4 linked regions of the Homo sapiens genome follow. The protein of the gene in region 1 binds, or shares a complex with, the protein of each later gene. Each region holds a gene or a part of one and is shown in the gene's direction. Other genes may lie near its edges.

Region 1 (4,652 bases):
AGGTTAGATTTGCGTTTTTCTTTTAAGATTTAAGAAAAATTTGAAGAAAAATTTGTATTGATAAAACTCACAGAATCTGGAGAAGTTATATTGTTCATTCATAGTGCACCTTCAGAGCTTGGTGCAGAAGCAGGGCCTGGCATCAGTTTCTCAGCGTGCTGGGCCCTGGGGGTGGCCTCAGCCCCAAGGAGGCACCGTCTGGCCTTGGTTGGTCTCGCCCCCTCCCTTGGTTGGTCTCGCCCCCGGCCTTGGTTGGTCTCGCCCCCGGCCTTGGTTGGTCTCGCCCTCGGCCTTGGTTCGTCTTGCCCCCGGCCTTGGTTGGTCTCGCCCCCTCCTTTGGTTGGTCTCGCCCCCGGCCTTGGTTGGTCTCACCCCCTCCTTTGGTTGGTCTCGCCCCCGGCCTTGGTTGGTCTCGCGCCCTCCCTTGGTTGGTGTCGCGCCCTCCCTTGGTTGGTGTCGCGCCCTCCCTTGGTTGGTGTCGCGCCCTCCCTTGGTTGGTCTCGCCCCCTCCCTTGGTTGGTGTCGCGCCCTCCCTTGGTTGGTGTCGCGCCCTCCCTTGGTTGGTGTCGCGCCCTCCCTTGGTTGGTGTCGCGCCCTCCCTTGGTTGGTGTCGCGCCCTCCCTTGGTTGGTGTCGCGCCCTCCCTTGGTTGGTGTCGCGCCCTCCCTTGGTGTCGCGCCCTCCCTTGGTTGGTCTCGCGCCCTCCCTTGGTTGGTCTCGCGCCCTCCCTTGGTTGGTCTCGCGCCCTCCCTTGGTTGGTCTCGCGCCCTCCCTTGGTTGGTCTCGCGCCCTCCCTTGGTTGGTCTCGCGCCCTCCCTTGGTTGGTCTCGCGCCCTCCCTTGGTTGGTCTCGCGCCCTCCCTTGGTTGGTGTCGCGCCCTCCCTTGGTTGGTCTCGTGCCCTCCCTTGGTTGGTGCTGACACTTGCGTTAGAATATCTTGATTTCTTACCCTCGGCAGCCTTTAAATTGAGCACCTGAGATGAGCGTCTCTCCTTCACCCCGGTCCTCTTTTTTAGCTGCTGAACTATTTTGAAGATAGAAACATCAAACACAGTCCGGAATTTATAGCAGGTGTCACTGGGTCACACAGCCTGTTTGGGTGGTGCCTGTGAGAGCCCTGCCCTCACCCTGCAAACTGTCACTCACCTCGCCTGAGTTCTCTTTTGGGAGGCCTGGCCCTCAGGTGCGGATCACTTTATAATGAGCTAGTGTGGAGTGCGGAGGCTTCAGTAGCAAAGGGACCCCGGGCAGGTCTGAAGAAGGGCCCTCACAGCGCAGGGCGTCTGAACGGAGACAGGTGCCCTCATCTGTTTGAATCTCACAGGAATAAAGAAAATGCAGTGGGTCAGAGACACACTTGCATGCCATCACACAAGGCAGCCATGCTCCCAGCCTGAACTGAAAGTGGCAGAACGGGGAAGGGGGGAGGAAGGACGGCATGAGGGGCGGGGCCATGTCAGGGCTGTTCACAGCAAGGCTCCCACTGGCACACACAGCAGAATCCGCTCCTTCCAGCATCTTAACTTTGGTTGAGAATGTGCTGTAAAGATGCCATCGTAATCTTTGTACTTAAATATATGTGAGCAGCTTTCACCATCGGAGCAGAACTTAGTTTTCATGCCAGCTGGGGGAAATGACAGCTGTTGGGAGTTGTGTGGCACGTGCCCCGCTGGGCGGTGTCGTGTGTGTGTGGTGCGCGCCCCGCTGGGCGGTGTTGTGTGTGTGTGGCGCGCGCCCCGCTGGGCGGTGTCGTGTGTGTGGCTCGTGCCCCGCTGGGCGGTGTCGTGTGTGTGGCGCGTGCCCCGCTGGGCGGTGTCGTGTGTGTGGCGCGTGCCCCGCTGGGCGGTGTCGTGTGTGTGGCGTGTGCCCCGCTGGGCGGTGTCGTGTGTGTGGCGCGTGCCCTGCTGGGCGGTGTCATGCAGGTGTCATCAGCTGAAACCGCCAGAGCTCTCCACAGGAGCTGGCACGCAGCAGCTATGCTTCTCCAAGCAGGAACACATCTGAGGCAGCTCGGGAGACACCTGGTCACCTGTAGGGGCTGACGGAGGCGGCGTCTGTGCAGCCAGGGCCCAGCCAGAGGCTCAGGGATCACTGTGGGAGCCACTGAGAAACCCAGCCTTCCCAGCTGACCCAGCATGCCCAGTCCCAGCCAACCCCAGGCCTCCCAGTGCAGGAATTCAGCAGCCAAGCGGGGATGACACACACAGACCTAGTGTGGCTTTTGTGCCCCAGCTGAGTCCACAGGCAGTCCAGCTGTGGTCACATGGAGGGTGGCCCTGGGGCCGCTCAGCCATTTGCCTTGGGTGGGTGCCACCCCCTAGTCCATCCTCAGCCCCAGGACCAGGTCCAAGCACTGTGGGGCATTGGGCAGCATCTGAGTGTGCCCTGTCCTGAAGGTGCAGCATGGGGCCTCCTGCCCTTGCCCCTGCCCTGGCAGGGCCCTGGACAGCACCCCAGCTCCAGCTGTGGGCCTACCGGAAGGAGCCCGTGCCAGGCCTGGCCTCCTCTGGAATCGGGGTACTTGGCTCAGATACACAGGCTCATTGCAAGCCCCACTCTGAGCCCCACTAACACACTGTCTTCTCCTTTTTCATCACCAGGGGTCGGGCCCCGGCTCAGTGGTCCCAGGCAGCTCGGGTGTCGGAACCCCCAGACAGTTCACGCGACAAAGAATCACGCGGGTCAACCTCAGGGACCTCATATTTTGTTTAGAAAATGAACGTGAGACAAGCCATTCACTGCTGCTCTACAAAGCATTCCTTAAGTGACACAGGAGGACGCCTGGGGACTTTTTATATATTTGCAGATTACGCCTTTTTGTAACGAGCAAATGGGATATTGTTTAAAAAACAGCCACCTCTTTACAATGGAACAGTTTTATATTCCTGTTTCTAAATCAGCTCTTCAGTGTGAAAGAAAACACGTTTCTGTAACAGAGAGAACACAAAGGCCTGTGGATACTCTTAAAGGACAATTAAATCTTAACTCATCTTGATTGAGTGGCCTTCCTGCCAAACAAGCCATATATAAAGACTGATGGAATCGTTAGCAAATAATTAGCTGCCCTCTGTCAACTCATAGCAGTTTCTGCATTATTTGTGCATTTTGGTTTAGTTCTACCTAACTTACTATGTAGGTGTATGTCTACAGCCGATGACCTCATTTCGTTTATTTTATTTTTGTAATAGTCAGTTGGCAAAGCAAACTGATTTTTTAGACTATTTATCTTCCTTCCCTTCCCCTCCCACCCCGCTCTCCTCTCTGCCCCCTGCCCTCCCCTCCCCTCCCTTCCCCTCCACTCCGCTGAGAATCCTGGAGGAATACACAATTCATCGTTGCACCCCCACCTCAGAGTGTAATCGCATTTCTGCTTGGTAGAGGCCGAGCCCAGCAAAGGTGGCTCCTTCTGAATGTGTGGTCAGCATCTGTACAAATGCATTTTATTTGCTATAGTTTGTAAAGCTGTAAAGTTAAAAGAGATGAAAACCTTTTCAGCATAAATATATTTTACTTGCACTGTGTTTTTTAGCTAAAAGTGAAAACCTAGATTAAATAAAATCAAAGTTGAGAAGAATCATCAAAAGACTGTTTCTCGGTGTGAATCAAGTGTTGAAAAATGGTTGGTGTATTTTGTCAGTAATTGTACATAACTTTTGGCACATGACATAGAAATGGCTATGTAAACTATAATTATTTTGCTAAGAGACTGTATGCAAGCCTTGGGCCGACTTTACAGACGTCCAGAGCAAAGCCCCTTCTTTGTACCTATTTTTTTATTACAAATATACTAATTGGTTCTTTCTATTTTCAGAGGTTATTGTATGAAATTGTCTATTGATAGTACTTTTATGACTGTAAATACTCTGGCTTTCTCCGTGTGAATTCTCACATTAGACTTTAATTCGAGCGCGTGTGAACTGAACGCTGATCAGTATTTTTTATCAACACCTGAGAACTGTTACACCTTTTATTTTGTCTTTTAGGAAATCCCTGTCTTTCCATTTTTTCATGTAAATTTTGCACAGTTACTTGTTCATATGTAAATATTTTACTTTCAGAAATGAAGTTTTTAATTGCTATTGTTTTATATAGGATTGAAAGAAAATTAACTCCTTTATTAAAAACAAATTTATCTGTATTTGTTTTGCCTATTTTTCCTCCGTTTTCCAGTTTTAGATTCTACTGCCAGATTGCACTCCGGCTCTGCTGAGGTGCTGGTTTCTGAGCCACCTGTTGGAATCTGTAGCTGAGCCCCATCAGAGCCGGGAGAAAGAACTTTCTCTGTGAGGACAGGGGCCGAGCTACTCTCTGCGTGGAGTCTGGGGGCTGGCGGCTGCGCTTAACACCTTCTGCTGTCACAGGTGGAGATGAGCTGGGCACAGCTAGGAGGGGCGGCGGGAGGCCCAGTGCTGGGGGAGATGTACACAGAAACGCACGTGGCGAGCCCGGCTGAGGTGCCCAGAGGGCCCCAGCCTTGACGCAGACCTCCTGTGGCGAGAGAGGGCGTCTCCAGGGCAGTTTGTGGTATTGGTTGGTCCTGACAGGTCACAGCTCCTGCTGGGCCCTCAGAGGCTCAGCGCCAATGTGTACCGCTCCCTGCCTTCGAGCACCTTGGAGAGCCTTTGGGAACGGTCTCTGATGCAATTGGAGTTG
Region 2 (7,068 bases), on another chromosome or scaffold:
GCTCGGTGGCTCACGCCTGTAGTCCCAGCACTTTGGGAGGCCAAGGCGGGTGGGTCACTTGAGGTCAGGAGATCAAGACCAGCTTGGCCAACATGGTGAAACCCCATCTCTACTAAAAATACAAAAAAATTAGCTGGGCGTGGTGGCATGTGCCTGTTGCCCCAGCTACTCAGGAGGCTGAGGCAGGTGAACCACTTTAACCCAGGCGGCAGAAGTTGCAGTGAGCTGAGATCAAGCCATTGTGCTCTGGCACGGGTGACAGAGCAAAACTCCGTCTTTACAAAAAAAAAAAAAAAGAGAGAGGAATCTTTTTTGAATGTTGAATTTTGTGAATGAACTATAAGATGAATTATATTGTTGGTTATTTTGCTGTAATCTCAGATCTCTTCAGAAACTTGACCTAATTATAGATCATAACTGAGAAATCAGTAAGGAGGAAAAGAGGCCATCAGAGTAACCAAAGAAATTATCACATTTCTGCAGTAAAGAGCAAAGTGTACTATAATGGCAACTTACAGAAATTTCCAACAACCAAATTCTGATTTAATTGACAGATTAATTGACTGATTTAATTGACAGATGTATTGTTAGGTGGTGCTGTATTACCAATAAATACTTACGTTTTCTGTTTTGAAGTGGTGGTTATGGAAATTGTCTTAAGCATATAACTATCTTTTGAAGATATAAATAAGGCATGGTCCTTCCCACCCTTAAGTACTTACATTTTGTAAGGGGTAAGAGATGTATATAATGTGAAGGGAACACAGGATAGGATATGTTACAAGAATGTTACACAGTGCTTGGGTGGCCCAGAGAGCTGGGAATGTTACTGCAGTGCATGGCTTGGTCGTGGTGGGTGCCATTTGCACAGAGCATTGAGAGAAAGTTAATGTAGTTGTTTGATTTGCACATATCTTTTATACAATTTGTCTTTAACATCAGGTAGTTCCAGGAGAAATACTGACTCCTTGTTATTGTTTTTTTTTTTTTTGAGACGGAGTCTTGCTCTGTCACCAGGCTGGAGTGCAGTGGAGCGATCTTGGCTCACTACAACCTCTGCCTCCTGGGTTCAAGTGATTCTCATGCCTTTGCCTCCCGAGTAGCTGGGATTACAGGCACGTCTCATCACACCCAGCTAATTTTTGTATTTTTAGTAGAGACGGGGTTTCACTATGTTGGCCAGGCTGGTCTTGAACTTCTGACCTTGTGATCTGCCCGCCTCAGCCTCTCAAAGTGCTGGGATTACAGGTGTGAGCCACCGTGTTGGCCTGTTATTGTTATCTTAAGATATGGGTGTGCTGATGGGTTTCGGTTTGGGTGATGAAACAAGTGAAAAAAATTCCATTAAAAGATTATGGCTGGGCGCGGTGGCTCGTACTTTTTTTTTTGAGATGGAGTCTTGCTCTGTCGCCCAGGCTGGAGTGCAGTGGCGCGATCTCGGCTCACTGCATCCTCCACCTCCCGAGTTCATGCCATTCTCCTGCCTCAGCCTCCCGAGTAGCTGGGACTACAGGCGCCCACTACCACGCCTGGCTAATTTTTTGTGTTTTTAGTAGAGACGGGGTTTCACTGTGTTAGCCAGGATGGCCTCGATCTCCTGACCTCGTGATCCACCTGTCTCAGCCTCCCAAAGTGCTGGGATTACAGGCGGGAGCCACCGCACCCGGCGGCTCATACTCGTAATCCCAGCACTTTGGGAGGCAGGTGGATCACTTGTGGTCAGGAGTTTGAGACTAGCCTGGTCAACATAGTGAAACCCCGTCTCTACTAAAAATACAAAAATTAGCTGGGCATAGTGGTGCATGCCTGTAATCCCAGCTACTTAGGAGGCTGAGGCAGGAGAATCGCTTGAACCCGAGATGGGGAGGTTGCAGTGAGCCGAGATTGTGCATTGCACTACAGCCTGGGCGACAAGAGTGAAACTCCATCTTAAAAAGAAAAAAAAAAAAGACTACGTGGGCCAGGTGTGGTGCCTCATGCCTGTAATTCCAACACTTTGGGAGGCCGAGGCGGGAGGATCACAAGGTCAAGATATCAAGACCATCCTGGCCAACATGGTGAAACCCTGTCTCTACTGAAAATATGAAAATTAGCTGGGCATGGTGGCACACGCTTGTAGTCCCAGCTACTTGGGAGGCCGAGGCAAGACACTCGCCTGCGAGGTGGAGGTTGCAGTGAGCCGAGATCTCCCCACCGCCCTCCAGCCTGGCGACAGAGCCAGACTCCCTCTCAAAAAAAAAAAAAAAAGATTATGTGATTGTGTTGAGGAAGAGACAGTGGGAAGAAAGAGACAACAGTCTGAGAAACAACTCACCTGTGGGCTTTAACAATACAGCCATAGTCACATGGTCATAATAGGTCATTTTCTTAAAAGTTTTTTGTTTTTTAAATAGTTGGAAGTGTTGCTGTGGAAGACCAGCCAGATGTCAGTGCCGTGTTGTCAGCCTACAACCAACAAGGAGATCCCACAATGTATGAAGAATACTATAGTGGACTGAAACACTTCATTGAATGTTCCCTGGACTGCCATCGGGCAGAGTTGTCCCAACTTTTTTATCCTCTGTTTGTGCACATGTACTTGGAGCTAGTCTACAATCAACATGAGAATGAAGCAAAGTCATTCTTTGAGAAGTATGTAAATTTTTACATATATATATATACACACATACGTAGTGTGTGTGTGTGCGTGCATATGTTTTCACATCTGTAACCACAAAAATGTAAGACTGCAACTTAAAAAGTACGTTGTGAAGGAGAGGTACCTGAGGCTATGAGAACTTAAAATGTGGGGTTTGATCTAGCTGGAGAAGTCAGAGAAGGCTTCCAGAGGAAATGATACTTGAAGTGAGATTTGAGATCTGAAGATTAGGTAGGAGTTAACCAGATGAAGAGAAGAGGGAAAAGCATGTGTAAAAGCTCTCTGGTGGGAAGGATCCTGGTAGGTACAGAGGCTGAAAGATGGCCAGGGTAGCTGGAGCAGAGAATGGGATGGGGGTGTGGTATACTATGAAGCTGGGAATTGGTTAGGGACTGGAACAGTAGGCAGGTTCTATTGTTAAAGTGAAGGCATTGAAAAAAAAGGATAGGCAGGTTTTTGGGCCATGTTGAGGGTCTTTGTTTATCCTAAGAGCAGTAGGGAGTTGTATTGGATAGGATTAGATTTGGTTGAGAGTCACTGAAAACTCATCAACAATGGCATAAATAAAAGTTTATTTTTGCCTTTATCTTAAGAAAACTAGGAAGCAGTGTTAGGATTCGATTAGAATAAGAGTAACTGAGAACCCAAACAACAGAGGTTTAAATACAATAAAAGTTTGTTTATTTTTCTCGTAAATGTGGGACATTCGGGATTGGTGTGGTGGGTTCTTCATTACCAGGGCCCCAAGCTCCCTCGGTCTTGTTGCTCTCTCATGCTTTTCATGCAATTTCCACCTTGTGGCATAAGATGGTTTTCCTGCTCTAAGCAGTCACATCAGTGTGCCAGTCAGCAGGTAGGGCACACGGAAACTGCACACACTTCTTCCTTTTATATCTTAACAGTCAGTGGCCACACCTAGCTACAAGGGAAATAAGAAATGTAGTCTTTACCTAAGTGTCTATGTGCCCAGCTGATATTCAGGTTTTCTTTTATGGAGGAAGACAGGAAAAATGGATATTTGGGGAGAGCGAAGCCTTTTTGCTACAGAGTCATTTCTGCTACAGAGTCATTAAAGGACCATGTCGTTATTAGATATATACTTTGAAAGGACCTTTATGCAGTGGGGAAAACAAATGGGGGATAGAATGACTATAGGGACAAGTTTTGGAAGTTATTGCAGTGGTTCTCAACTGGAGGTGGAATTGCTCCTTCCACTAGACCATTTGAAAATGTGTAGAGGTGGCCCGGCGCTGCGGCTCACGCCTTTAATCCCAGCACTTTGGGAGGCTGAGGCGGGTGGATCACTTTGACCTCAGGAGTTTGAGACCAGCCTGGTGAGACCTAGTCTCTTCAAAAAAATGCAAAAATTAGCTGGGTGTGGTAGCTCACTCCTGTAATCCCAGCTATTTGGGAGGCTGAGGCTGGAGAATCGCTTGAACCTGGGAGATAGAGGTTGCAGTGAGCTGAGATTGCATCTCTGCACTCTAGCCTAGATGACAAGAGTGAGACCCTGTCTCAAAAAAAAAAAAAAAAAAAAAGAAAATGTGTGGAGGCATTTTTGGTTGTCATAATGACTGGGCGGAGGAGCAGGAATACTAAATGTTCTAATATGTGCACCTAGGTAGTCCCACTTTACAAAGAATTATCCTGCCCAAAATGTTAATAGCACCCTTATTGAGAAGCACTGGACTAGGTTGTGGTGGAGGTGAAGAGAAGTAGACAAAGTCATGAGACACTTGATAGATTGGCTAGGGAGGTGAGGGAGATGGAGATATCATTGAAATCTCCAGTTTTCTGGCCGTTCTAGCTGGATAGGGGAGCCAATTCCTGACACAGAAAACCCTAGAAGAGGACTTGATTTGTCAGCCTTGGAATAATTTTGAGTTCTGATTTGAATATGCCTTTGACTCATTTAAGAAATGTCAAGTTGATAGGTAGATGATATATGAGAGCTCAGAACAGAGGTAGGGACTAGAACTATTAATTGGAGTTGTGTGCAATATTGATGGATATGGATGAGGTTGACTAGGGGAGAGTATGAAATAAGTCAGTCAGTGGGCTAGGCCCAAGGAGCTCCAAATTTAATGGCCAAGTAGAAGAGATACACAGGAAGAAAACCAGGGGAGGGCTGAGTTATAGAAGCCAAGGGAAAGGAGTATTTAAGAAGGAGGCAGGCTGGGTGTGGTAGCTCATGCCTGTAATCCCAGCACTTTGGGAGGCTGAGGTGGGCAGATCACCTGAGGTCAGGAGTTTGAGACCAGCCTGGCCAACATAACAAAACCCTGTCTCTACTAAAAATACAAAAATTAGCCGGGCGTGGTGGCAGACACTTGTAATCCCAGCTGCTTGGGAGGCCGAGGCAGGAGAATCACTTGAATCTGGGAGGCAGAGGTTGCAGTGAGCTGAGATTGCGCCATTACACTCCAGCCTTGGCGAAGAGTGAAAGTCTATCTCAAAAAAAAAAAAAGGAGGCCGTGCTTAGCAGTGTGAATAATTTTTTTTTTTTGAGATGGAGTTTTGCTCTTGTCACCCAGGCTGGCATGCAGTGGCGCCATCTCGGCTCACTGCAACCTCCGCCTCCTAGGTTCAAGCAATTCTCCTGCCTCAGCCTCCCAAGTAGCTGGGATTACAGGCATGCATCACCATGCCTGGCTAATTTTGTATTTTTAGTAGAGACAGGGTTTCTTCATGTTGGTCAGGCTGGTCTTGAACTCCCGACCTCAGGTGATCTGCCCACCTTGGCCTTCCAAAGTGCTGGGATTACAGGTGTGAGACACTGGGCCTGGCCTGAATGAGAAATGTTTAATACAAGCAACAGAGCCTGAAGTCAAGATTTATCACTTAACACAGGGTAGTAGTAATAGAGGAACAGTAGAACTTAGCACCCCTGGCTTCTATGCCATTATAGTAAATTCATTATATTAGGATGCCTAATAGGAAGTATATAAGGCAAAATGTTCTGTAGCCAAGTGCTTTTGAAAAAAAAAAAAATAAGAAAGGCTGATGACAGAACTTCTACCCTAGAAGCTAATTTCTCTTTAAAGTACTGTCATCTAAACACTCCATCCTTGGCAACATAGATACTGTCACTTAAAAAAACAAAAACATAGCCTGGGCAAAAGAACGAGATCCTGCTTCTACAAAAAGTAAACAAAAATTGAGCCGGGCATGGTGGCTCATGCCTGTAATCCCACACTTTGAGAAGCCAAGGCGGGCAGAATGCCTGAGCTCAGGAGTTCGAGACCATCCTGGCCAACATGGTGAAACCCCATCTCTACTCAAATACAAAAGATTAGCCAGCCATGGTGGCACGTGCCTGTAGTCCCAGCTGCTCAGGAGGCTGAAGCATGAGAATTGCTTGAGCCCTGGAGGTGGAGGTTGCAGCGAGCTGAGATCGCGTAAACAAAAATTAGTGGAGTATGGTGGCACAGCAGTCCTAGCTACTCGGGAGACTGAGGCAAGAGGAATCCCTGAACCCAGGAGTTTCAGGCTGCATTGAACCACTGCACTCCAGCTTAGGCTTCAGAGCAAGAACCTGTCTCTAAAAAAGAAGGAAAAACCTTTTTGCTCTTCCTGTCTCATGGTGTAGCTGTCTCCCCACATAGGAAGCTGGAACGTCATAGGGGATTCTCTGTCTTCCCATTATGGACAGTCTCACCCCTTGCCAGGACCCCATCACCACAGGAGGATAATGGGCAGTTACTGATATAAGAGGCTGAGATTTCTAATTTTATTCAAATCTTAGATCATATATTGATGAGTTGTAATGGGGTAACATAGTTAACAGTTTAGAAATCTGTTGACTATGTGCTTATCAGAGCTGGAGCCCTAATATGTTTAGTCATTGTTTTAAAAATGTTTTTGCATTGATTGCTGTTTTTAGTGAATGCCAAATATATTGTCTTTAATTTTATTTTCTTAGGAAAATTAAGCGTTGTAAAAACAAAAGTACATTTAAGTTTACTAGTTGTTATCAAGGCTAAAGGCTTTATTTTATTGTCTTTGGTAATAGTTGTTGATACCAAACAATGAGTACTTCCACTTTGTTGTTTAGTGATCATATTAAAGTATTGATATTTTAAAAATGTCTGGTACATGTTTCCAATAAATATAGGAAATCATTAAAAATGATGGGTTTTATGAGAATGTTATATATTGATTATTGTTGAGATGCTGAGTACTGTGTACATTGAGTTCATTATACTCTTTTTTATGCCTTTGAAATTTTCATAATAAAACTTTTAAAAGTGGGTTTTGAGAAACCATAACATTTAGTAAAGCAAGGGTTCTTATATTTTCAAATGTCTACCAGTTTCTTTTAAATGTCTCCATTCTAAAGAAACTGTCTACCAATGGTGGGTATATTATTTTTCACTTAGGATATTTAAGTTCTTTTCTTAAAATGTTTGTGATACATTTCATTAGAGAAT
Region 3 (7,000 bases), on another chromosome or scaffold:
ATGCATGGGTAAATTTTGTGTTCATAGTGCTAAACAGAGCAATAAATTTTAATGTAACAGAATATGAATGTCTGTTGATATGATTTCAGATTACACATTGCAACCAACTTATAAGAAACTATCATTTGTTGCATTTAATGCAGCATTAAAGAAGAACTTACACCATTATCCAAAAAATCTTTTAAAATACTCCTCCCTTCTCTAGTTACATATGCCTACATTAAAGAGATTTGCAAAAATTTAAAACATTGCCAGTCTTGGCCAGGCACAGTGGCATGCGCCTGTAATCCCAGCTATTAGGTAGGCTGAGGCAGGAGGATTGCTTGAGCCCAGGAGTTCAAGACCACCCTGGGCAACAGAGCAAGACGCCATTATCAAAGAAAAAACAACCAAAACATTGCCAGTCATTACCAAGTTTTTTGTCTTGGAAAATATAGTTATTTTCATAAAAAAAAATGTTATCTGTTAACATATAATGGGTTCATTGTCGTTACTTTTAAATGAATTACTAAATATTTTTAAACTTTTCAGTTTTATTTTTATTTTATTTTATTTATTTTTTTTGAGACCGATTCTTGCTCTGTCACCCAGGCTGGAGTGCAGTGGCATGATCACGGCCCACTGCAACCTCTGCCTCCCAGGTTTGAGTGATTCTCCTGCCTCCTCCTCTGGAGTAGCTGGGATTACAGGTCTGCGCCATCACACCCAGCTAATTTTTGTATTTTTAATAGAAATGGGGTTTCACCATGTTGGCCATGGTGAATCACTCCTGGCCTCAAGCGATCCACCCACCTCGGCCTCCCAAAGTGCTGGGATTACGGGCATGAGCCAATGTGCCTGGTCCAGTTTTATTTTTAATATGGTAAATATTGACAGATATAGTGCACATTTTTTAAGTTCTTAATAATTTTTAGGAATTTAAAGGGGCCCTAGGACGAAAAATTTGAGAATTGTTGCTTTAGAATTTTTTTTTTTAAATGTGCTGGTGGCAAATTCTTAGCTTTTGCCTGCCTGTAAATGTTTTTGTTTCATCTTTATTCCTTAAAGATGTTTTCAAAGACATAATTTATTTTTCTTTAGCACATTGAAGATGTTATTCCACTATCTTCTAGATTTCATCATTGCTAATTAAGAAGTCAGCTGTCACCTGTTTCTTCTTTGAGAGGAATTGTTCTTTTTTCCCTCTAGCTGCCTTTCAGATTTTTCCTCTCTATCTATGATATTTTATAGCTTCACTTTGATGTGCCTAGATATAGATTTATTTTTATTTATCTTGCCTAGGGTGTGTTGGGCTTCATAAATCTGTGGATTGGTATCTTTCGTCAGTTCTGTAAAAGTCTCAGGTACTCTTTGTTAACATTCGTCTCTGCCCCATTTTTCTTCTAGAATTATGATCAAACATGCACTAATTAGACCTTTTATTGTATTCTCTTTGCTTCTTAGGCTATGCTCTGAAAATTTATTTTGTCCTAATACTCAGTTTATAGTTCTGTCTTGTTTCCAATCTGTTGTTAAATCCCTCCTTTCAATTTTAAATCTCAGTTACTGTATTTTTTAATTTCTAGAAGGTCTGTTTGGTTCTTTTCAAATCCACTAGATCAAGTCACTCTCTGTGACTTCCTACGACCTATATTTCTAGCCTTTGCCTTTTATTATTTTTTTAACATTGTAAGCAAAGTTGTTTTATAGTTGATAATTCTTGTATCTGTGGTCTTTGTCTCTTCATACTAGCTGTTATTTCTTAACAGTTTTCCCTGATCCCACCTTACTTCCTCATAGATTTGATTATCTTTGATTATGTGCTGCTTATTTTTTTTAAAGATAATTATCTGTATTAATATGAGACCTAGATTTTAAGATACTTCCCCTCAGGATTGTGCTGTGTGCCTGGGCACATTGCAAGTCCAAATTACTTTAAAGTATCCTAGAACACCAGAGGTGAAAATTCATGCCATTCTCGTGCATCTTTACCTTATGGGTATAGCCCATTGGGAATCCTTAGTGTCGGGAGGGAGTTCTATTACACCTTCCACTTCGGGCAGATCCTGGGCTTTGACATTCGTCCTCTTCATCATAACCAAATATCAGACTTGCCTAATGCGTAAATGCCCTTGGGGTAAAGCATCTGTGTTCTGCTTACCTCTCAGGGTTCCTGCTTTTCCCTTTAGCTTTGGTTCCATCACTTGTGTGTTCAACCAGTATGGGAAACTGCCTCTAGAAGCAGTGTTTTAAAATTTTAGTCTAACCATAAAAATAGAGAATGCTTACCCTCTGGATATAAATGCCATAGCGATAACTTTGAACTCCTACATTACATGCCTTTTATGTAAGGCAAACCTCAGTACACATTGAGAGACAGTGTCATATACTTATTAAGATCACAGGCTCTAAAATCAGACTGCCTTGTTTAAATCCTGGCCCTGCCATGTAGTAGTAACCTGTGTTAATTTATGCAAGATACGTAATCTCTCTGTGCCTTGGTTTCTTCGTTTAAAAAGCAGAATAATAGCTTGCCTCATGTGGTCATTATGAAAAACAAACAAGGCCGGGCACCGTGGCTTACGCCTGTAATCTCAGCACTTTGGGAGGCTGAGGTGGGCAGATGACCTGAAGTCGGGAGTTTGAGACCAGCCTGCCCAACATGGAGAAACCCCGTCTCTACTGAAAAAAAAAATACACACACACACACACACACACACACACACACACACACACACACAAATTAGCTGGGCGTGGTGGTGCATGCCTGTAATCCCAGCTACTTGGGAGGCTAAGGCGGGAGAATCACTTGAACCCAGGAGGCGGAGGTTGCAGTGAGTCAAGACTGCGCCATTACACTCCAGCCTAGGCAACAAGAGTGAAACTCCATCTCAAAAAAAAAAAACCTAGATAAGGCAAGGCAAGTAAATATTTAACACAGTGGTGCCTGGCCCACAATTGGCTTTCAAGTGCTTAGGACAGTCAGACATATAGAAAGTGCTCAATAAATATTCATCGGTTATGATGTTAAGCATTTATGAAGTGTCTGCTGCACCAACAAGCCTGTGCTAAAGTCTCTTGATCTTTGGCTGTATCCAAGTTAGGAAGATGATCACCCTTGCAGGAAACAAATAGAGAACAATTCGACAGCAGTAATGAAGTTACTTGCTGAAATAATGGTGAAGTTTTTGAAGTAACTTAATGTTTTATGAATTTATGATCAGAATAGCAAAGAGTCAGTGCCTTTTGGTGAAAGTGGTTTCTAAACTAGGACTATGAGGAAGTGGAACCGTGAAGGCTGGCAGCAATGAGGCCAGAGGCTGTCGTGAGCAACAGCCGTGAACATGGCACGGGGCCGGCAGTTCCCATCTGGATGCAGTTTTTGAAGTGTTTCTCCACATTGAGGTTCTCACTACAACCCTCTGAGGCCACTGCATTTCTTTTCACTTTGTTGCTGAGAAAAACAAGGCCTAAAGAATTGTGTGGAATAGTAGAAAGAGACAAGCTGGGACAGTCCACAGGCTGGCAATTCCTGGTGAGGTGAGGATGGCCATATTCCATGGCCCAGAAACTTCATTTCTAGGGATGGGGCTTGGAGAAGTCCTTGAACAGTTCTATTTATGAGTCAGTGTGTAAGTTTACAAGTGAATGTCTCCTACTTTCAGTAGGATGATGGACAAAAACCTTTGGCTTACTAATACCATGGAATACAATATAGTAATTAGAATAAATAATATAGATCTCTATGTGTCAGCATGGATAAATCAGGAGACATAAAACTAAGTGGGAAAAGCTAGTTGCAGAGGACAACTGGAGTGTGACATTGTGTGTATAAAAGTTAAAAGACAGCAAACAGTAATGCAGTATGTATTGTTTATGGACACCTACAAAGGCAGGAAAGGTACAGAGAAAAAAACAAAGTACCAAGAACAATAAACAAAAACATACCTGTCTTAGGGCAGTGGTTGCTCTGGGGCAGGGAAGGAAGTTCATCTGAAACAAATATGGCAAAGGCTAACATATTTTATCTCTGATTATTACCTAACTGTCTGTTATATTGTTTTCTCTGTGTGTGAAATTATATATATATATATATATATATATATATATATATATATATATATATACCTTTTTTTTTTAATAAAGAAGCTTAAAAACAAGCTTTGGAATCAAGTAGACTTTGGTTCAAAAGCTGCCACCCGTTTACTCAAATTCCTTTCTCTTGCTGATCTTCAGTTTCCTCATCTACAAAATGGGGTAATCATTACTTCTTTGATGTTCTCATAAGGACTGGATGAGATGATGTTTGTAAAGTGCCTAGTATAACCTCTAACTTCTTATAGGTCCTCAATAAATAGTGCTTTTTATAATAAATTGAGTAATCCAAGGCCACAGGTCTAGTCTCTGGCGGCTGTAGAATTTGAACTCAGATGTCCTGGCCCCAAGTCCAGAGCTGCTTCCACTGGCGAGAGTTGTGTGAAGAGGATGCTGTTAGTGGAGGAGCAGGGTCACAGTACCACAGCTCTAGCGACCTGCGGCAGCATCACCAGGACAGAAGCTGCCGCTGCATTACCTCCTCCTTACCTCTGCAGCCCGTCTGGGAACAATCTTTTTTTTTTTTTTTTTTTTTTGAGACGAAGTCTCACTCTGTAGCCCAAGCTAGAGTGCAGTGGCGAGATCTCGGCTCACTGTAACCTCTGCCTCCTGGGTTCAAGCGATTCTCCTGCCTCAGCCTCCTGAGTAGCTGGAATTACAGGTGCACGCCACTGCACCCGGCTAATTTTTTGTATTTTTTAGTAGAGACGGTGTTTCACCATGTTGGCCAGGCTGGTCTTGAACTCTCGACCTCAGGTAATCCACCCACCTCGGCCTCCCAGAGTGCTAGGATTACAGGGGTGAGCCACCTTGCCCAGCCTGAACGGTCAATCTTTAAAACCTGGCAATCAAAGCCAAACCCAGAAGTGAGAAAGTCTTCACAGTTTTATTGACAATGGCATTGAGAGTATTAAGAAGAAACATTGGAATTAAGAAGAGAGAAATAGAAACTTTTTCTTTTTAAGCTGCTCTGTCCAGCAGCTTAGGCCAGGTTAGGTTTATGGTAATTAACAACCCAAAAATCTCAAGGGCTTCCAACAGCAAATGTGTCTTTCTTGCCCATCTCCAGTGTGGAGCACAGGCTGCTCCAGGTCCTCTCCAGCTGGAGCCACAGTGGAAGGAGCAGCCCCTGTCAGGCCCCCCCGAGGACTCAGCAGAGGTGGGGGTGGGGAGCGCCACCTCTGAAGCCGTCAGAGCTTCTGCCCCAGCACAGGAACAGGCAATTGAAGTCATATTTCTGTGAACAATGCATGTGTATTGGTTGCTAGAAATTTCTAACTGTCTGGCCATTGAGGGGAAGTTTGGAAAATGAAAAATTCGTCTGAGTAAGTGGAGAGGCCACTTCATGCAGGGCCTGGAACTCAGTTCTTGAGCTGCCTCTAGACGTTGAAGTATTTCGCTACTGGAAGAAAAGCTATTTTACGATCATGTTTTTAAGCACGGGTTTGGTTCGATGATGATCCTGTTTTGACTTTTACCTTCTCTTCTTTTGTTGACAGTGTCATCAGCAAGGTGGTCCCTGCCCCCGAGGCCAAGCCGGCGCCCTCGCAGAACAGGCCGAAGACCCCACCGCCGGCCCCCGCGCCCGCCCCCGGCCCCATGCTCGTCAGCCCTGCGCCCGTGCCGCTGCCGCTGCTCGCCCAGGCCGCCGCGGGCCCTGCCCTGCTGCCCTCCCCGGGTCCCGCCGCCTCCGGGGCCAGTGCCAAAGCCCCCGTGCGCAGCGTGGTGACTGAGACGGTCAGCACCTACGTGGTGCGTACCTGCCGCCCGCGCGGTTAGCATGGAGACGTTTTCAGATCGAGACAAGTGTGTGCTCTGAATCACTATCGAATTTCAGACGCATTTCTCTTCAAAATTTTATTATTTACTTAATTATTTTTGAGACAGGGTCTCCCTGTGTGGCTCAGGCTGGAGTACAGTGGCCCAATCATAGCTCACTGCAACCTCAAACTCCTGGGCCCAAGCGATCCTCCTGCATTAGCTTCTCAAAGTGGTGGGGTTACAGGCCTGAGCCACTGCCCCTGGCCAGACACGTTTCTTTTTTTTTCTTTTTTTTTTTTGAGACAGAGTTTCGCTCTTATTGCCCAACCTGGAATGCGGTGGTGAGATCTCAGCTCACTGCAACCTCCACCTCCCAGGTTCAAGCGATTCTCCTGCCTCAGCCTCCTGAGTAGCTGGGATTACAGGCACGTGCCACCACACCTGGCCAATTTTTTGTATTTTTAGTAGAAACGGTTTCACCGTGTTAGCCAGGCTGGTCTCAAACTCCTGACCTAAGGTGATCCACCCGCCTCGGCCTCCCAAAGTGTGGGATTACAGGCATGAGCCACCGTGCCCGGCTTTTTTTTTTTGAAAGGGGATTTCACTCTGTCACCGAGGCTGGAGTGCAGTGGTACGATCTCGGCTCACTGCAGCCCCTGCCTCCCAGGCTCAAGCGATCCTCCCACCTCTTGAGTAGCTGGGATCACAGGCAGTCACCACCACTCTCGATTAGTTTTTTGTATTTTTGGTGGAGACAGGGTTTCACTATGTTGCCCAGGCTGGTCTTGAGCTCCTGAGCTCCAGCAATCCACCCATTTCTGCCTCCCAACGTGCTGAGATGACAGGCATGAACAACCATGCCCAGCCAAGATGCATTTCTTCATTGCAGTTTTTCACTGCATTTTCAAGCTTTTGGCTGAAAAGTTACATCACAATGTTCACATAGTCAGCCTCCATAAATCATATCAAAGCTTGTTTTTATATTGTTTTGGGATATGACTATATGCATATATACAGTAATATCAATCTGTAAATGTAGAGACGCATGGTGGTACTGAAATCTCACATTGAATTTCTTGATCAAGCAATTCAGTTATTCACTTAAGAGTATAATTTATAGAATGTACACTGATATTATGAGCCAGGTAGTGTTTCTGAATAATAG
Region 4 (7,000 bases), on another chromosome or scaffold:
ACTAATGAATTAGCACATTAAAAAACATAAATGATAAAATTAAAACATTATTTAAAATGTAAATGTATAACATTACAAAATATGAAAGGCTATAGGCACTAATATGGAGATCTTTAAAGTTATAAAGACATTTAATGTTCAAGTTTAGGCCAAATAAATGTGAAAATCTGAGAAAAATAGGTGATTTTTTAAAGGAAAATACAAACCACCAAACTTGAAGCACAGTTAGAAAACTTGTATAAATCAGTAACTAAAAAGAAATTGAAAAGATTGTCAAAGATAGACTACCTTCATCCCACCTATTCCCATATTCCTGTATGAGTTTAAATTTGAATTCCTCTTTAGGGACAAGTTAAATCTCATTAATGAGTTTTGTAGTATACTTAAGATTCTACATTAAGTCAGAGGGGGTGAAGTTTGGATTTGATTTTTATTATTAAACAGCCAGTTTTTTAAGTTCAGGGGTACATGTGCAGGATGTGCAGGTTTTGTTACATAAGTAAATGTGTGTCATAGGGGTTTGTTGTATAGATTATTTCATCACCCAGGTATTAAGCCTAGTGTCCCTTAGTTATTTTTCCTGATCCTTTCCCTCCTGCCACCCTTCATCCTTCCATATACCCTTCACCCTTCCATATACCCCAGTGTGTGTTCCCCTCTATGTGTCCGTGTGCTGTCATCATTTAGTTCCCACTTATTAGTGAGAACATGCAGTATTTGGTTTTCTGTTCCTACATTAGTTTGCTAAAGATAATGGTCTCCAGCTCCATCCATGTCCCTGCAAAGGACATGATCTCCTTTTTTATGGCTGTATAGTATTTCATGGTGTATACTGGAAAATACATTTTCTTTATCCAGTCTACCATTGATGGGCATTTAGGTTGATTCCATGTCTTTGCTATTGTGAATAGCACTGCAATGAACATAAGTGTGGATGTGTCTTTATAATAGAACAATTTATATTCCTTTGGGTATATACCCAGTAATGGGATTGCTGGGTCAAATGGTAATTCTGTCTTTAGGTCTTTGAGGAATTGTCACACTGCCTTCCTCAATGGTGAACTGATTTATACTCCAACCAAGAGTTTAAAAGCTTTCCTTTGCCTCCACAACCTTGCCAGTATCTGTTATTTTTTGACTTTTGAATAATAGCCATTCTGACTGATATGAGATGGTATCTCATTATGGTTTTGATTTGCATTTCTCTAATCAGTGAAGCTGACCTTTTTTTCACATGATTGTTGGCCACAGGTATGTCTTGTTTTGAGAAGTGTCTTTGCCTACTTTTAAGTGGGGTTTGAACAGGCATTTATTAAACATCCAGCATAAGTAAAATTGCATTAAATGCTGATGGGGGGGAGATATAAATAATAAGAGACAAACCTATCTTCAAAAAGACTAGTAATGTGAAATAAACATTTGCATGAAACAGTAGGATTGAAGAATAAGAACAAAAGAGCACTACGTGTGAGAAGCTCACTTGAAAGTCCCAAATTGAAATAAACACTGTTTTGATGAGAAGGGGCCTCCTTTTTAATATTCTTTCCATGTGGAATCATCAGCAGTAAAGAGATCTATAGATCTGGAAGCAGAAGAGCTGGCTGGATGGAGGGGACTTTGCTGACATCCCCTCTGAAAAATAAGGTCAGAAGAGTGGGCCCGGGGGAGGGTGATTTTCATGATCCATGGCATTTCATTACCCTTGTAAACAGATACTGGAGCTGTGCTCATAGCCAAACTGGAAAACTAGATTATTTAGCAGGTTTTCTTTCCATAGCTGAGCCATAATCTTCCCTTAGGAGAGATACTGTATCTTATCCTTGATGGTACAGTCAGTGCCTAGAACTGAAAAACTACTCAATAAATGGATTTGTTGTTTTGTGATAAGGATGATGTCTTCTTACTTTGCCCAAGCCTGGAAAGTAGGCCAAATATATAATAGAGTTTCTTTCATCTTCCCAGCTCGAGAGTCAGGATGTCTCAGATTTAACAACAGTTGAAAGGGAAGACTCATCATTACTTAATCCTGCAGCCAAAAAACTGAAAATAGATACCAAAGAAAAGAAAGAGAAAAAGCAGAAAGTAGATGAAGATGAGATTCAGAAGATGCAGTAAGTCACTTTCTTATCATTCCCCATTTCGAGGCTCTCACTTGACCACACAAATTTAATAAATTTTTCTTGGTGTTTAAATTTTCTTTTATAAACTCAAAAGAAAATAAAACGATTAATACATTATGGCTGGGCATGGTGGCTCACGCCTGTAATCCCAACACTTTAGAAGGCCAAGGTGGGAGGATTTCTTGAGGCCTAAGTTTGAGACCAGCCTGGGCAACATAGTGAAACCCTTTCTCTAATGTTATGTTATGTTATGTTTTTTTTTTTATTTTTTATTTTTTTGAGATAGAGTCTCACTGTGTCGCCCAGGCTGGAGTGCAATGGTGTGATCTCGGCTCACTGCAGCCTCCACATCCTGAGTTCAAACGATTCTCATGCCTCAGCCTCCCGAGTAGCTGGGACTACAGGCATGCACCGCCATGCCCAGCTAATTTTTGTATTTTTAGTAGAGACAGGGTTTCACTATGTTGGCCAGGCTGGTCTTGAACTCATGACCTCACGTGATCTGCCCGCCTCGGCCTCCCAAAGTGCTAGGATTACAGGCATGAGCCACTGTGCCCGGCCTCTATTTAAAATTTTTTTTTTTTGAGACAGAGTTTCGCTCTCGTTGCTCAGGCTGGAGTGCGGTGGTGCAATCTCTGCTCACTGCAACCTCCGCCTTCTGGTTTCGAGCGATTCTCCTGCCTCAGCCTCCCAGGTAGCTGGGACTACAGGCTCCTGCCACCATGCCTGGCTAATTTTTGTATTTTTAGTAGATACAGGTTTTTGCCATGTTGGCCAGGCGGGTCTCGAACTCCTGACTTCGTGATCCGCCCGCCTCAGCCTCCCAAAATGCTGGGATTACAGGTGTGAGCCACTGTGCCTGGCCAAAAACAATTTTTTCAAATAATTATGTTACAGCATAGAAAATATAAATAGATAAAAAGAAGGCCGAGATCGGTGGCTCACACCTGTAATCCCAGCACTTTGGGAGGCTGAGGCGGGTGGATCACTTGAGGTCAGGAGTTTGAGACCAGCCTGGCCAACATGGTGAAACCCCGTCTCTACTAAAATTACAAAAAATTAGCCAGGTGTCGTGGTGGGTGCCTGTAGTCCCAGCTACTCGGGAGGCTGAGGTAGGAGAATTACTTGAACCCAGGAGGCAGAGGTTGCAGTGAGCCAAGACTGCGCCACTGCACTCCAGCCTGGGCGATAGAGCCAGATGCTGTCTCAAAAAAAATAAATAGATAAGAAGAAAAAATAATTACCTTACCACAGAGATATATCCTGCTTATAAGTTTCAAGATAGTTTCTATACATATATATCTATAAATTTTTTTTTCCACAAATGTCAAATACTGTTTTGTAGCCTATTTTTCACATTAGATATGGTGAATGTTTTCCATGTCACTAATTATACATCTAGGTCATAGTTTTCTTAAAAATAGAAATAGCTTTATTACATTTTCTGATTGTAAAAGTAGTATGGGCTCATTGCAAATAATTCAGAGAATACAGAAAAATAGAAAAAAATCACCCATAAACTCACCACGCAGAGTTCACTCTAAGTATATAGTTGGGTATAATGTTTGGGTATGTACCTTTTCAAAGTTTTTTTAGATGTTTGATATGTATAGCTAAATATTTTCATGTCAGTAAATATGCTCATAAATCATAATTTTTAATGGCTACATTGTATCCCATTATGTTGTTGAACTATAATTTAACCAATCCCTATAGTGCTTCTGGTTGGGTATTTTTACTTTTGACATTATGATGAGGATCTTTGGACATATCTTTGCATACTTGTCCATTACTTCCTAAGATAAACTCCTAGAGGTGTAATTGCTAATTCAAATAGTATGAACATTTTCAAAGGCTTTTCATATGTATTTCCAAATTTCTCTCCAAAAAGGTGTTCCAGTTCACTCTGCCAGCATGTGTTTGTGTCCCATATTCTAATACCATTCTTTTTTTAATAGTGGTCTGATTTATGAAAAATGTTATCTATGAAAATAATATTTCCTTAGTTAATAATGAAGGTTGTTTCCCCCATGTTGATTGACCATTGGTATTTTGGTAAATTTCCTGTTCATGTACTTTGTTCATTTTCAAAAATTGACATGGCCCCTTTATTCATTTGAAAGAATTATACATTAGGAGTATTAACTGTTTCCACATATTTTGCAGATATTTCCCCTAAATCTGTTAATGTTGAAAACTACTGGTTTGATTATAAATTTGTATATTAAATTTTTACCATCAGTGTGAAATTCAATAAGATAGAGTTATGGAGATAGTGTCTAATGCTGCAAACAGTCTGTGTAGTACGATACAGTGACCCAGTGTTGTTCTTTTTGTTAACAGGTAAGAAAAGAAGTTTTTGTTTTACGTTTTCTCAAATTCCTTTGGAGTAGAAGTGTTTTATCTTCATTCCTCAAGGCACCAAGCCTAATGCCATTGACCCCTTTAAGAATTCGTTTTTGAATTGTCTGAAACTTTTATTGACTTCATAATATCTTGAGTATTCGTTCTTATAAGTTAACTTAGTTACCTGGATCTTTGTTTAGAATCCTGGTTTCTTCTTTTTCTGAGGAGCAGCTGAACCGTTATGAAATGTATCGCCGCTCAGCTTTCCCTAAGGCAGCCATCAAAAGGGTAAGGATGGACCACCACACTTCATCTCCATCACGTTTTAGAACTGAACTCAAGAGCCATGTCCATTGGCATTTGAAGTGAGGTGTTAGACAAGTCAGGGGATTATTTAGGTGGGAAAAAAAATGCACTTCAGTTATCTTACCTTTTTCTGTGAATTACTTGGTACTGTGTTCCAAAGCCAGTCTTTGACTATTGTGATCACGGAGTCTTTGTGCTTCTTTCAAGCTGATCCAGTCCATCACTGGCACCTCTGTGTCTCAGAATGTTGTTATTGCTATGTCTGGTATTTCCAAGGTTTTCGTCGGGGAGGTGGTAGAAGAAGGTGAGTAGTGTTGGTTACAAATACTGGATTGTACCTGTGGTGGTCTTATTTTTAAGAATATCTACACAAAGGAGCTTATTAAAGCACCTATGGGAGTTCTCATTTGCACTTGAAGTTGACCAAGTGGGGAGCCCTTTATTTAGGAGAACATGACTGTTATTCCTTGCAAGTTTCAATAACAGATGGTAAGGAACCATCTGGGAAATCCCCTCCCTGATTCCTTTCCTCAGCCCAGGGTGAAAGAAGTAGACTTTGTATTTTCTGCAGTGGACTTTGCTCATTTCTGCTGCCAAAAGTAAAGATACAAGAAAAGCAATCACAGGGGTGACCTGTGTGGGATGGTGAGTTGTCCCTAATGTTGTGATCCCTAGGAACTGCCTGACCCCTTTATTGAGTAAAAAGCCTGGCTGTTTCCCATTGCTACTCTAGCTGGTGAAATTTTTTTTTTTTTTTTGAGCAGGAGATATATACTTTTAAATTATTATTATTTTTTGAGACAGGGTCTCACTCTGTCACCCAGGCTGGAGTGCAGTGGCATGATCTTTATTATTTTTTTTAATATTTTTTATTTTTCCTTTTACAAATCACAAATTAAGATGGTATACAAAATGAGATGGTAACAGTGGTGTGATCATAGCTCACTACAACCTCAAACTCCTGGGCTCAAAGGATCCTCTTGCCTCAGCCTCCCAAGTAGCTGGGACTGTAGGCGTGCACTACCATACCTGGCTAATTTTTAATTTTATTTTTATGTAGTTATTTGAGACAGGGTCTCACTCTGTCACCCAGGCTGGAGTGCCTTGATCATGCGATCACAGCTCACTGTAACAGTTAGCTCCTGGGCTCGGGTGATTCTCCTGCCTCAGTCTGAGTAGTTGAGACCACAGGTGCGCACCACCACCCCTGGCTAACTTTTTAATTTTTTGTAGAGACAAGGTTTGGCCATGTTGCCCAGGTTGGTCTCGAACTCCTAGGCTCAAGCAATCCTCCCACCTTGGCCTCCCTAACTGCTGGGATTATAGGCATGAGCCACAGCATATGGCCTATAGGAAATATATTTTAAACTGTTGTCTATGATAAAGCCTGTTATGAGACGTTATACTAATATTCTCTTAAAAAGGAAAAATGTCTGTTTATTTCCTTAGCAAGCTTAAGAAAAGTTAACAAGAATTACAGGACTCAAAAGGATTATGTGATTAGTAAATTATTGTGTGATAATCAGACTTTCTCCTTACCCTCTGTTTAGCACTGGATGTGTGTGAGAAGTGGGGAGAAATGCCACCACTACAACCCAAACATATGAGGGAAGCCGTTAGAAGGTTAAAGTCAAAAGGACAGATCCCTAACTCGAAGCACAAAAAAATCATCTTCTTCTAGACCAAAGTCTAGAAAGGCCTATGTTACTGACGGAAGAAGTATTGGTTCCAGACTTCCTATAAGACTGTCTGCATTGGTGCTTTAGTATCTCAGGCCTCCAAGGATTCCATGATGATTTTAATGTCTTTCTCAAAACTCTGATATTTGTCACACCTAGAAAGTATGTAGCCTGATTGATACTTGCCTTGACTAAATTTTGGGACCTCTTGGGGCATTTTGAAGTATTTAACTGTCTTGACCAGTTGGAAGAAGATACGTGGGCCATAAGCATCTTCTGGACAGGGGAACTGCTTTCAGAGAGAAAACCTTTCCAAGAGAGTTTTGTTTTGTTTTGGTTTCGTTTTGTTTGAGATAGGGTCTTGCTCTATCACCTAGGCTGGAGTGCAGCGGCATGACTGCAGCCTTGAACTCCTGGGCTTAAGTGACCCTCCCACCTCAGTCTCCTGAGTAGCTAGGACTACAGGCACACACTACTGTGCCCAGCTAACTTATTTTTATTTTTTATGGAGATGGGGTCTTGCTTTGTTGCCCAGGCTGGTCGTGAACT

The links.
Region 2: TAF4 (region 1) and TAF5 share a complex: the UniProt entries of both Homo sapiens proteins name them as parts of the TFIID basal transcription factor complex.
Region 3: TAF4 (region 1) and TAF3 share a complex: the UniProt entries of both Homo sapiens proteins name them as parts of the TFIID basal transcription factor complex.
Region 4: TAF4 (region 1) and TAF11 share a complex: the UniProt entries of both Homo sapiens proteins name them as parts of the TFIID basal transcription factor complex.

The regions. Positions count from the first base shown.
Region 1 is NC_000020.11:61,974,283-61,978,934, reverse strand, and holds the end of TAF4 (transcription initiation factor TFIID subunit 4), read left to right. Parts: intron 1-2,599; coding exon 2,600-2,767; 3' UTR 2,768-4,137; downstream 4,138-4,652. UniProt on the Homo sapiens protein: The TFIID basal transcription factor complex plays a major role in the initiation of RNA polymerase II (Pol II)-dependent transcription.
Region 2 is NC_000010.11:103,370,965-103,378,032, forward strand, and holds part of TAF5 (transcription initiation factor TFIID subunit 5), read left to right. Parts: intron 1-2,393; coding exon 2,394-2,631; intron 2,632-7,068. UniProt on the Homo sapiens protein: The TFIID basal transcription factor complex plays a major role in the initiation of RNA polymerase II (Pol II)-dependent transcription.
Region 3 is NC_000010.11:8,003,505-8,010,504, forward strand, and holds part of TAF3 (transcription initiation factor TFIID subunit 3), read left to right. Parts: intron 1-5,573; coding exon 5,574-5,826; intron 5,827-7,000. UniProt on the Homo sapiens protein: The TFIID basal transcription factor complex plays a major role in the initiation of RNA polymerase II (Pol II)-dependent transcription.
Region 4 is NC_000006.12:34,878,043-34,885,042, reverse strand, and holds part of TAF11 (transcription initiation factor TFIID subunit 11), read left to right. Parts: exon of another isoform or gene 1-1,605; coding exon of another isoform or gene 1,606-1,644; intron 1,645-1,962; coding exon 1,963-2,111; intron 2,112-4,666; coding exon 4,667-4,754; intron 4,755-4,979; coding exon 4,980-5,076; intron 5,077-6,322; coding exon 6,323-6,453; 3' UTR 6,454-7,000. UniProt on the Homo sapiens protein: The TFIID basal transcription factor complex plays a major role in the initiation of RNA polymerase II (Pol II)-dependent transcription.